2 separate regions of the Homo sapiens genome follow, and region 1 is linked to region 2. The links come from fine-mapping of genetic effects on gene expression. A gene starts in region 2. The other region holds a variant in brackets. All regions are shown on one strand. Distances are from middle to middle.

Region 1 (4,385 bases), 490 kb after region 2:
TTCATATAAGTGGAATCATATAATATGTGGTCATTTTTGACTGACTTCTCTCACTTAGCATAATGTTTTCAAGGTTTTTCCATGTTTTCAAGGTTTTTCCATGTTTTAGCATACATACATCAGTACTTCACTCCTCTTATGCCTGAATAATAGTCAATTGTATGGGTGTACCACATTTAATTTATCCATTCATCAGGTGATGGACATCTGGTTTGTTTCTACTTTTTGGCTATTATAAATGCTGCTGCTTATGAACATTTGCATATAAAGTTTTGGTGGACATGTTTTCAGTTGTCTTGGGTATATACCCAGGAGTCGAAATGCTGGGTCAAATAGTAACTGTATGTTTAACTTTTTGAGGAACTACCAAAATATTTTCCAAGATGGTGGCACCATTTTAGATTCCTACTAGCAATGTATAAGCATTTGAATTTCTCCACATCCTCACCAACACTTGCCTGTGTGTTTTATTACAGCTAACCTAGTAGATGTGAAATGATGTCTCAGTTTGCATTTACCTCATGAGTGATGATGCCAAACATCTTTCCACACACACTGGCCATTTATATATCTTCTTTGAAGAAATAGCTATGCAAATCTTTTACCCATTTTTACTTGGGTTATTTATCTTTTTCAAAAGAGTTCCTTATATATTCTGAATATAAGTCTCTTATCAGATATGTAATTTGAACATATTTTCTCCCATTCTGTGAGTTGTCTTTTTTACTTTCTTAAAGATGTCCTTTGAAGCATAAAAGTTTATAATTTTTATTGACTTCCAATCTACTTTTTCTTTTGTTACTTATACTTTAGGTATCATATCTAAGAAACCATTACCTAACCCAAGGTTGCAAAGATTTATTCCTACGTTTTTTCTAAGAGTTTTTAGTTTTAGCTCTTATATTTAAATTTTTCATACATTTTTAGTTAATTTTTGTGTATAGTGTGAGGTAGGGATTCAATAGCATTATTTTGCTTGAAACTGTTCTTTCCCTGTTGAATTGTTTTGGCAATCTTGTCAAAAATCAGTTGGCCTTAAATATAAGTGTTCACTTCTGCGCTCTCAAATATATTTCATTCATCTATATTTCTATTCTTACGCCAGTACCACGTACTCTTGATTACTATAATTTTGTAATAAGTTGGAGTTGGAAAGTGTAACTTTTCCAACTTTATTCTTTTTAAAGACTTTGACCACTCTAGGTTTCTTCTATTTCCATATGAATTTTAGGATGAGCCTGCCAGTTTCTGCAAGAAGTCTAACTGGAATTTTGATAGGGATTACATTAAATCTGTAGATCAATTTTGGGAATATTTCCCTTTTAACAATATAAAGTCTCTGATCCATGAGCATAAGATATCTTTCCATTTGCTTTTTAGTTTCTTTCAGCGATGTTTTATAGTTTTCAAAGTACAAGTCTTACACTAGTTTTGTTAGGTTTATTTCTGGTTACTTTATCCTTTTTGATGGTGTTGTAAATAGAATTGTCTTCTTAATTTTATTTTGGATCATTCATTTATAATGTATAGAAATGAATTGGTTTTTGTATGTTGATCTTGTATCCTGTAAACTTGCTGAACTGGTATATTCATTCTAAT[A/G]GTTTTTTTGTGTGTGGATTCGCTACGCTTCTCAATATACACGATTATATTATCTGTGAATGATGAGATAGTTTTACTTTCCTCTTTACAATCTGGATGTCTTTATCTCTTTTTCTTTCCTAATATCCCTGACTAGAACCTCCTGTACAACGTAGAATAGAAATGGGTGAGGTGCAGTGGCTCACACCTGTAATCCCATCACTTTGGGAGGCCAAGGCAGGCAGGTCACTTGAGCTCAGGAGTTTGAGACCAGCCTGAGCAACATGGCAAAACCCTGTCTCTATGAAAAATAGTAGTCCTGGCTACTTGGGGGACTGAGGTGGAAGGATCACTTGAGCCTGGGAGGTCAAGGCTGCAGTGAGCCGAGATTGTGCCACTGCACTCCAGCCTGGGTGACAAAGGAAGACCCTGTCTGGGAAAAAAAAAAAAGACACAAAGAAAAAGAAAAAAAAAGAAATGGCAAGAACGCAAATCCTTGTCTTGTTCCTGATATTACAGGAGAAATTTCCAGTCTTTTATCATTAAGTATGATGTTAGCTCTTTTACAAAGATGCCCTTTCCTTTGTCAGGTTGAGGATGTTCTCTTCTGTTTCTAGTTCATTGAGTATTATTATTATGGAAAGGTGTTTGGTTTTATCAAATGTTTTTTCTGCATCTATTAAGGTGATTATGTGAGCTTTTTTCCCCCTTTATTCCATTGGCATGGTATATTACATTGATTGATTTTCAGATGTTAAACCAACCTTGCATTCCTGGAATAAATCCCACCTTGTTGTGGTGTATAATCCTTTTTTATATGTTGCTGGATTCGGTTTGCTAGCATATTGTGTAGATTTTCACATCTGTATTCATAAAAGACAGTCTCTAGTTTTCTTTTTATGTCTTTGTCTAGTTTTAGTATTTAGGTAATATTGGCTCCATTGAATTCAAGTTGGGAAGCATTCCTTCCTCCTGTTCTATTTTTTGGAAAAGTTTTCAAAGGATTGGTATTAATACTTCTTTAAACATTTGGTAGAATTCATCAGTGAAGCCATCTGGTCCTGGGTTTTCTTTGTGGGAATTTTTTAAAATACTAATTCAATTTCTTTCCTTATTATAGATATCTATACAATTTTACTACTTTCTGTCTTTCAGTAGTAAATATTTATTCCTTCATTCAAGAAGTTGTTATTGTTGATTCTATCTAGACCTTGTTCTTGGCACAGAGATTACAGCAGTGAATAAAACAAAAGCTCTGGCCGCCTTGAAGCTTAGCATTCTCATATTTTTTCTCTTCTCTTACTCTCTTGCTCTCTCTCTCCCCCTCCCTCCCTCTAAATATATACATATAGACACAATTTATATATATATTATATGTGTATATATATGTGTGTTGTTGTTTGTTTATATTTAATATTGTTCTATTACTTATAAAAATATTACTACATGACATGGGTGGAGAAAAGAGGTCCTTGAGTTTGCAATATATATTGCTGTAGCTTATATAAATTCTTAGATATTCTTGAAGAAAGTAGTGTGCATGGGAAATGGATATAGTCATGTGCTATATAATGATGTTTTGGTCAACAATGGACTGCACAAACAACACTGGTCTCATAGGATTATGATGGAGCTGAAAAACTCCTGTTACCTAGTGACATAGCCATTGTGACATCACAGCGCAAGGCATTACTCACGTGTTTGTGGTGATGCTGGTGTAAACAAACCTACTGCACTGCCAGTCATAAAAGTATAGCACATACAATTATGTATAGTACATAATACTTGGTGATAAACTACTGAGTTACTGGTTTGTGCATTTTCTGTACTATTACCATAACTTTAAAGTGTACTCCTACTTATTTTTTAAAAAACTGTAAAACAGCCTCAGGCATGTCCTTCAGGAGGTATACCAGAAGAAGGCATTGTTATCTTAGGAGATGACAGCTCCATGTGTGTTACTGCCCCTGAAGACCTGCCACTGGGACAGGATGTGGAGGTGGAAGACCGTGATATTGATATTCTTGACCCTGTGTAGGCCTTTGTCATCATTGTCCCTGTCTTCACATGGTGCTTTTTCTTATAAGGACACCAGTCATACTGGATTAGGGCCCACTCTAATGACCTCATCTTAACTTGATTACATCTACAAAGACTTTATTTCCAAATAAGGTCACATTCACATGTACCAGGGGTTAGGACTAGTAATATGTGTGTTTGTGTCTTCGTTTTTAACAAAAAAGTTTATAAAAAAAAAAGTTTTGTTTAAATAGGGAAAGATTTGTAGCATAAAGACACAAAGAAAAAACAATTTTTTTTTTTTTTTTGAGACAGAGTCTCGCTCTGTCACCCAGGCTGGAGTGCAGTGGTATGATCTCAGCTCACTGCAACCTCCGCCTCCCAGGTTCAAATGATTCTCCTACGTCAGCCTCCTGAGTAGCTGGGACTATAGGCATGCGCCACCATGCCTGGCTAATTTTTGTATTTTTAGTACAGACACGGTTTCCATGTTGGCCAGGCTGGTCTCAAACTCCTGGCCTCAAGTGGTCCACCCACCTTGGCCTTCCAAAGTGCTGGGATTATAGGCATAAGCCACCGTGCCTGGCCCAAAGAAAAAATATTTTGAAATAGTGTACAGTGTATCTTAAGCTAAGTGTTATTATAAAAGTTAAACAAAATTTATAAAGTTAAACAAAATTTAAGCTTATAAAGTTAAAAAGTTAAGTAAGCTAAGGTTAATTTATTATTGGAGAAAAATTTTTAAATAAATTTAGTATAGCCTAAGTATACAGTATATATAAAGTCTA
Region 2 (4,316 bases):
GTCGTTTCCATTGGAATAAAACAGGGAGAGCTGGGAGGGGTCATGTCTTTTGGAGACAAAGGGAAAGGGGAATGGCTTGGATGCCATTGACAGTGGAGAACCGAGGCCAAGGGGCTCTTCCTCCCAGACACAGCTCCGTGGTCATCCCTGCTGCCTCCGAGGCGCGGAGGGATCATTGTGGGCACCAAAATACCCCACCCTAGGACCCCAGCTTCCTCCGGTAGCACCTGGGGGTTAGCGGGGTGGAATGAGTGGGCTCTCCCCCATTTCTCCGCCGAGATCACTGAGGCAGGGAGCAGGTGAGTCGGGGGCGGAGAGATGTGGTGGCCGCGCCTTGCCTGCGTCAGTCACCGCACCAGGAATAGCCCTCGCCCCCGCCCCCGCCCCCCAGCGGGTCTGCGCGCCCGCCGGGTGCCTGGCGGAGCCTTTACGCAGGAGCCAGCGAGCGTCTATTCCTGTCGGGCTGGTGGGAGGAGGCGGCGCGGGAGGGCGGGAGCGCACGGGTAGCTCACAAACAGCCGGGGTGGGGGGGCTGGGGAGTCTGGGGAGGGGTCCAGGCAGCGCGGAGTTGAGGGACCGGGGAGTCGCCTGCGCTGGGCTCTGGCAGGGAGGGGGACTCCTGTGCTGGCCTCCCTGCTTCACCTCCCACCTGTAAGTCCTTCTGCCGAGCCTGCCCCCTGCTGGTCCATTCAGCCATAGAAGACGAGTCCAGTTCCCTTTCCGTGGCTTGCTGGCTGTGTGACCATGGGCAGAGCCTGGAACCTCTCTGGGCCTGGGCTTCCCTCCCTCTGTCACAGGGGAACAATAGTGCCTCCCCCAGAGTTGCTGGAGGGTGAACGTACAGTTCACAGTAGAGCATAGCATGGACGCCTGCTAGGAGGGACTCTAGCTAGGCCTAGGTTGAGGATGGGCATAGACATAGGAGACAGGAGAAAGTGCTCCAGACAGGACTGTCCAGAGCAACGGTGTGCCAGAGAGACTGAGAAGTACCCAGAAATGGTGCAGCTGGAACAGAAGGTCTGTGCAAGCCTTTGGGCTGTGTGTGAGGCTGAACAGCGAGAAACAAGGTGCTGTTGGGGGTGGGGAGAGGTCCCTCCGTGGCAACCAGGCATCTCTGCAATGATGTTGCGCAGGCTTCCTGGGAGAGGGGGTGTCACTGGAACTGGGATTCCAGCGTCTGCCCCAGAATCCGAGAGGCTTTGGGCTAGATCCCCTCCCCCAGCCTCAGCTGCCCCTGTGGACTCAAGCTATTAGGAGTATTCATGTGCTAATGGGTTGTTCCCAGCAGGGGAGGAGGGATGGCCGTGCCGGGCGGTGTCAGCATTGATGGTTATTCTAATAAAACTGGCTTGGTGGTAAAGGGCGTCTGGCTTCAAGGAGATGGAGGGGGTAGTATAGGGAAAAAGGTGAGGTCCTGAGGGTGGTAACCTACTCTGCAGGCTTTGCCAAGACATCCCTGCTGGCCTAGTTTCTGTATCTGAGGATCAAGGAGGATCTGGATCTCCGAGGAGAGGTCCCATTCCTTGGGCCCGTCTGAAGTTGTGGCCCCAGCCGAGGATCCCCGGGACCATTCCGGGAGGAGGGAACAGTCAAGCCCAGGCGGAGGCTCTGCGCTGCCCTCTGCTGGCCACTGGGTGCAGGGCCTCCGGACGGAGCGGGCCAGAGAGGCCTGCCGCCCTCTGCTGGACAGGAAGCCAGGCTGGGCGGGGACCCCGGCTCCTGGGTAGAGCTGCCGGGCCAGCGCGGCTTCCTCGCCGTCCCCTGGAGCTTCCCATTCTGCCTGCCTCGCCCTCCCGCGCTAGAATGTGGGCCCTCTAGCCTCGCGGACTTTCGAGAGGAGGGGACAGGGCCAGGACGGGGGCTCCCGGTCGGCCTCCCCATGCCGCCCTCCAAACAACCCTGTTCGTGTAGGGAGCCCTGTCCGTCCTCGTGCGTGTGTTCGTCCACAGCCCAGTTAACACGTGTAAACACACTCGCGCGCTCACATGCACACGCATGTGGCAACACAAAAATCACACACAACGGTGTGCGCGCATACACCCAGGGAGGACCGCACGCCGGACTCCCCGACACCCGGCTGGCCCGGGACTCGCCCAGAGCCCCGGACCCGGAGGGGCGCGGCCGTGTGCAGAGCTGGAGCGCCTGGCTGGTGCGCCCCTCGCCTGCGCACCCCTGCCTGTTTCGCTGCCCTAAGCGTGCAGGGCAGCGGCTGGGGCGCCCCTCGCTCTCCGCCCCCTCCGCTGAAAGGAGACGAACCACCCCCCACCCCACCACCACCATCACCAGGTTTTGCGGCCGCGCCTTCTCCTCCCCCGCCCGGCTCCCGCGGCTCACTCGCTCCCTCCTCCCTCGATCCCTCCTCCCTCCCTGGCTCGCTCCTAGTGCTCCCTCCCCGCGCCGCTGCAGAGCGCGGAGCCCGAGCGGGAGCCGGCGCGGGAGCCGGAGCGGGCGGCGGGCGACAGCGCAGGCGGCGGCGGCGGCGGTGGGTCCTGGTCCCGGCCCCGGAGGGCGCGGAGTCCCCACCCGCGCCGCTCCGGCCCCTCTCCCGACGCGGGGCGCCGAGCAGCATGCGCGGCCGCTGCCCGCCGGCCCCGGCCCCGCGGCGGAGCGCGCCCGGCCTCGACCCCGGCCCCAGCGGCAGAGGCGGCGGCGGCGGCTCCGGGCCGGCCCAGGGGGCAGAAGCAGGCTCGCGCAGCCCCTGTCCCGCGGCCTGAGCGCGCCCGCCCATCCGCCCGCCGGGGCCGCGGCCTCCCGCCTCCCCACTCCCGAGCCCCGGCCCCGGCTCCGGCTCGGCTCCCGCCCGCGCGGGGCGGACAGACGGACAGCCAGCCCCGCGAGGGCGCGCGGACTGCCGGGCGGAGGTGTCGGAGGAGGAGGAAACGGAGGAGGGGGCTGGGCAGGGGCTGGGGCCTGGTCGGGCCGGCTGGAGAGACATGCGATTGGTGACCGAGCCGAGCGGACCGAAGGCGCGCCCGAGATGCAGGTGAGCCAGGCGGCCGCGGCCGAGCCCCGAGCGGGCAGCCCCGCGGCGAGTGCCCCTGGGGGCCGCCATCGGCCCTGGCTGCGCCCTCCTGGGGTTGCAGGGCACCTCGGTGCCACCCAGACCTCCTTTGGGGTCATAGGCCTGATTTCCCCTCAAGCCTCAGAAATGAAAATTCTTCCTTTTCCACCTCCCCTCTCTCCAACCCCAACAAATTCCGGGTTTGTAAGCTGGGAGCCTGGAGCTGGGGAGGGGCCCCCACGGGTGTCCCAGACCTGCTCTGGTCTCCCCTTCCTGTCCCCCCTCCCATTCTGAGTATTGGTCACTCTAGAGGGTAAGCCCCCTGCTCAGCCCTGGGTGGGTACCTCCCTTCGTGGACCCCAGGTACCCCCAGGCAGCCCCCACCAGCACCAGACACTCCCTAGCTGGTGGACACAGGTCAGGGGCTGGGTTTCTCCACAAGCTCCAGCCTGGATGGCAGCTCCCCACCACACACAAGCATCGCCCCTTTCCAGCTCCTGCCCAGTGAAAAGGAGATGGGGAGTAGGGAGAGTGGAAGGAAGGGAGTTGGGGACCGGGAGCGCCCAGGAACGCTTTAGGGGCCTCCCCTTTGTCTGCGTTCAGCCCGGGCTTCTCACCTCCTCTTGCCCCACTTTTCATTCTAAGGCAGAGCGGGTGGGAGGTGGGAACCAGCTGAGAAGAGGGAGGTAAGGAGGGAGCCTCCTGCTCCCCCTCACACCCTTTTCGGGGTGGGCTGTGGGCTCTCTGCTCTCAAGGCATGCCAGGAGATGTGACCCTCCGGGCGGATCCCACTTTGAGAAGGAGGGGTGGGGCCAGGCCAGTGGGCAGCCCCTCCCGGTTCCTGCTGGGGTCGCAGCCCAGCCTGGTCCAGCCTGACTGTGCCTGCACCTCCTCTTTGTTCTCAGAGGCCTTGGGGTTGGGGTGGGGCAGAAGGGGGCCTGAGAGGATGGGAAGAGCTCTGCCCTGAGCGGGTGGGAGTGCAGGAGGCCCTGAGGTAGGGGCTGTGGCATCTGGACAGCCCCTTCCTGCTCGCCCAGCCCTCCCTCAGTCCTCTGCTTGGTTTGGGCAGCCAGAGGGCGCATAGCCCAGCCTGGCCCGCGGCTCTGGGCTCAACCCTGTTGGTCATTATGCCAGTGGCTTCAGCACTGGTGCCTCCCATGCCCAGGGAGCAATGAGCCGGGACACCCAGGCGGCAGAGAGCCTGGGGCTTCCCCAGATCCAGCGCAGAGTGTCAGTGAGGAGAAGAGGGCCAGCTGCTCCCAGACCCTTTGTCCTTGTATAAGCCAGGGAGGAGCTCAAAATCCTCACGCCTCTG

The links.
Region 1: its variant is fine-mapped to the expression of LINGO1 in hypothalamus (GTEx, PIP 0.98).

What each region holds. Positions count from the first base shown.
Region 1 is chr15:77,138,382-77,142,766 of GRCh38, reverse strand. The region is part of intron 8 of PEAK1 (pseudopodium enriched atypical kinase 1); the gene reads left to right. Among named protein-coding and RNA genes, the nearest start is that of TSPAN3, 69 kb to the right of the region's middle. The variant A/G (reference allele first, on the strand shown) is at 1,600.
Region 2 is chr15:77,630,977-77,635,292 of GRCh38, reverse strand. It overlaps LINGO1 (leucine rich repeat and Ig domain containing 1), which reads left to right and starts at 2,381. Exons shown (of 2, transcript NM_032808.7): 1 at 2,381-2,983. The coding sequence starts at 2,978. RefSeq lists enhancers at 1,428-1,557, 999-1,562.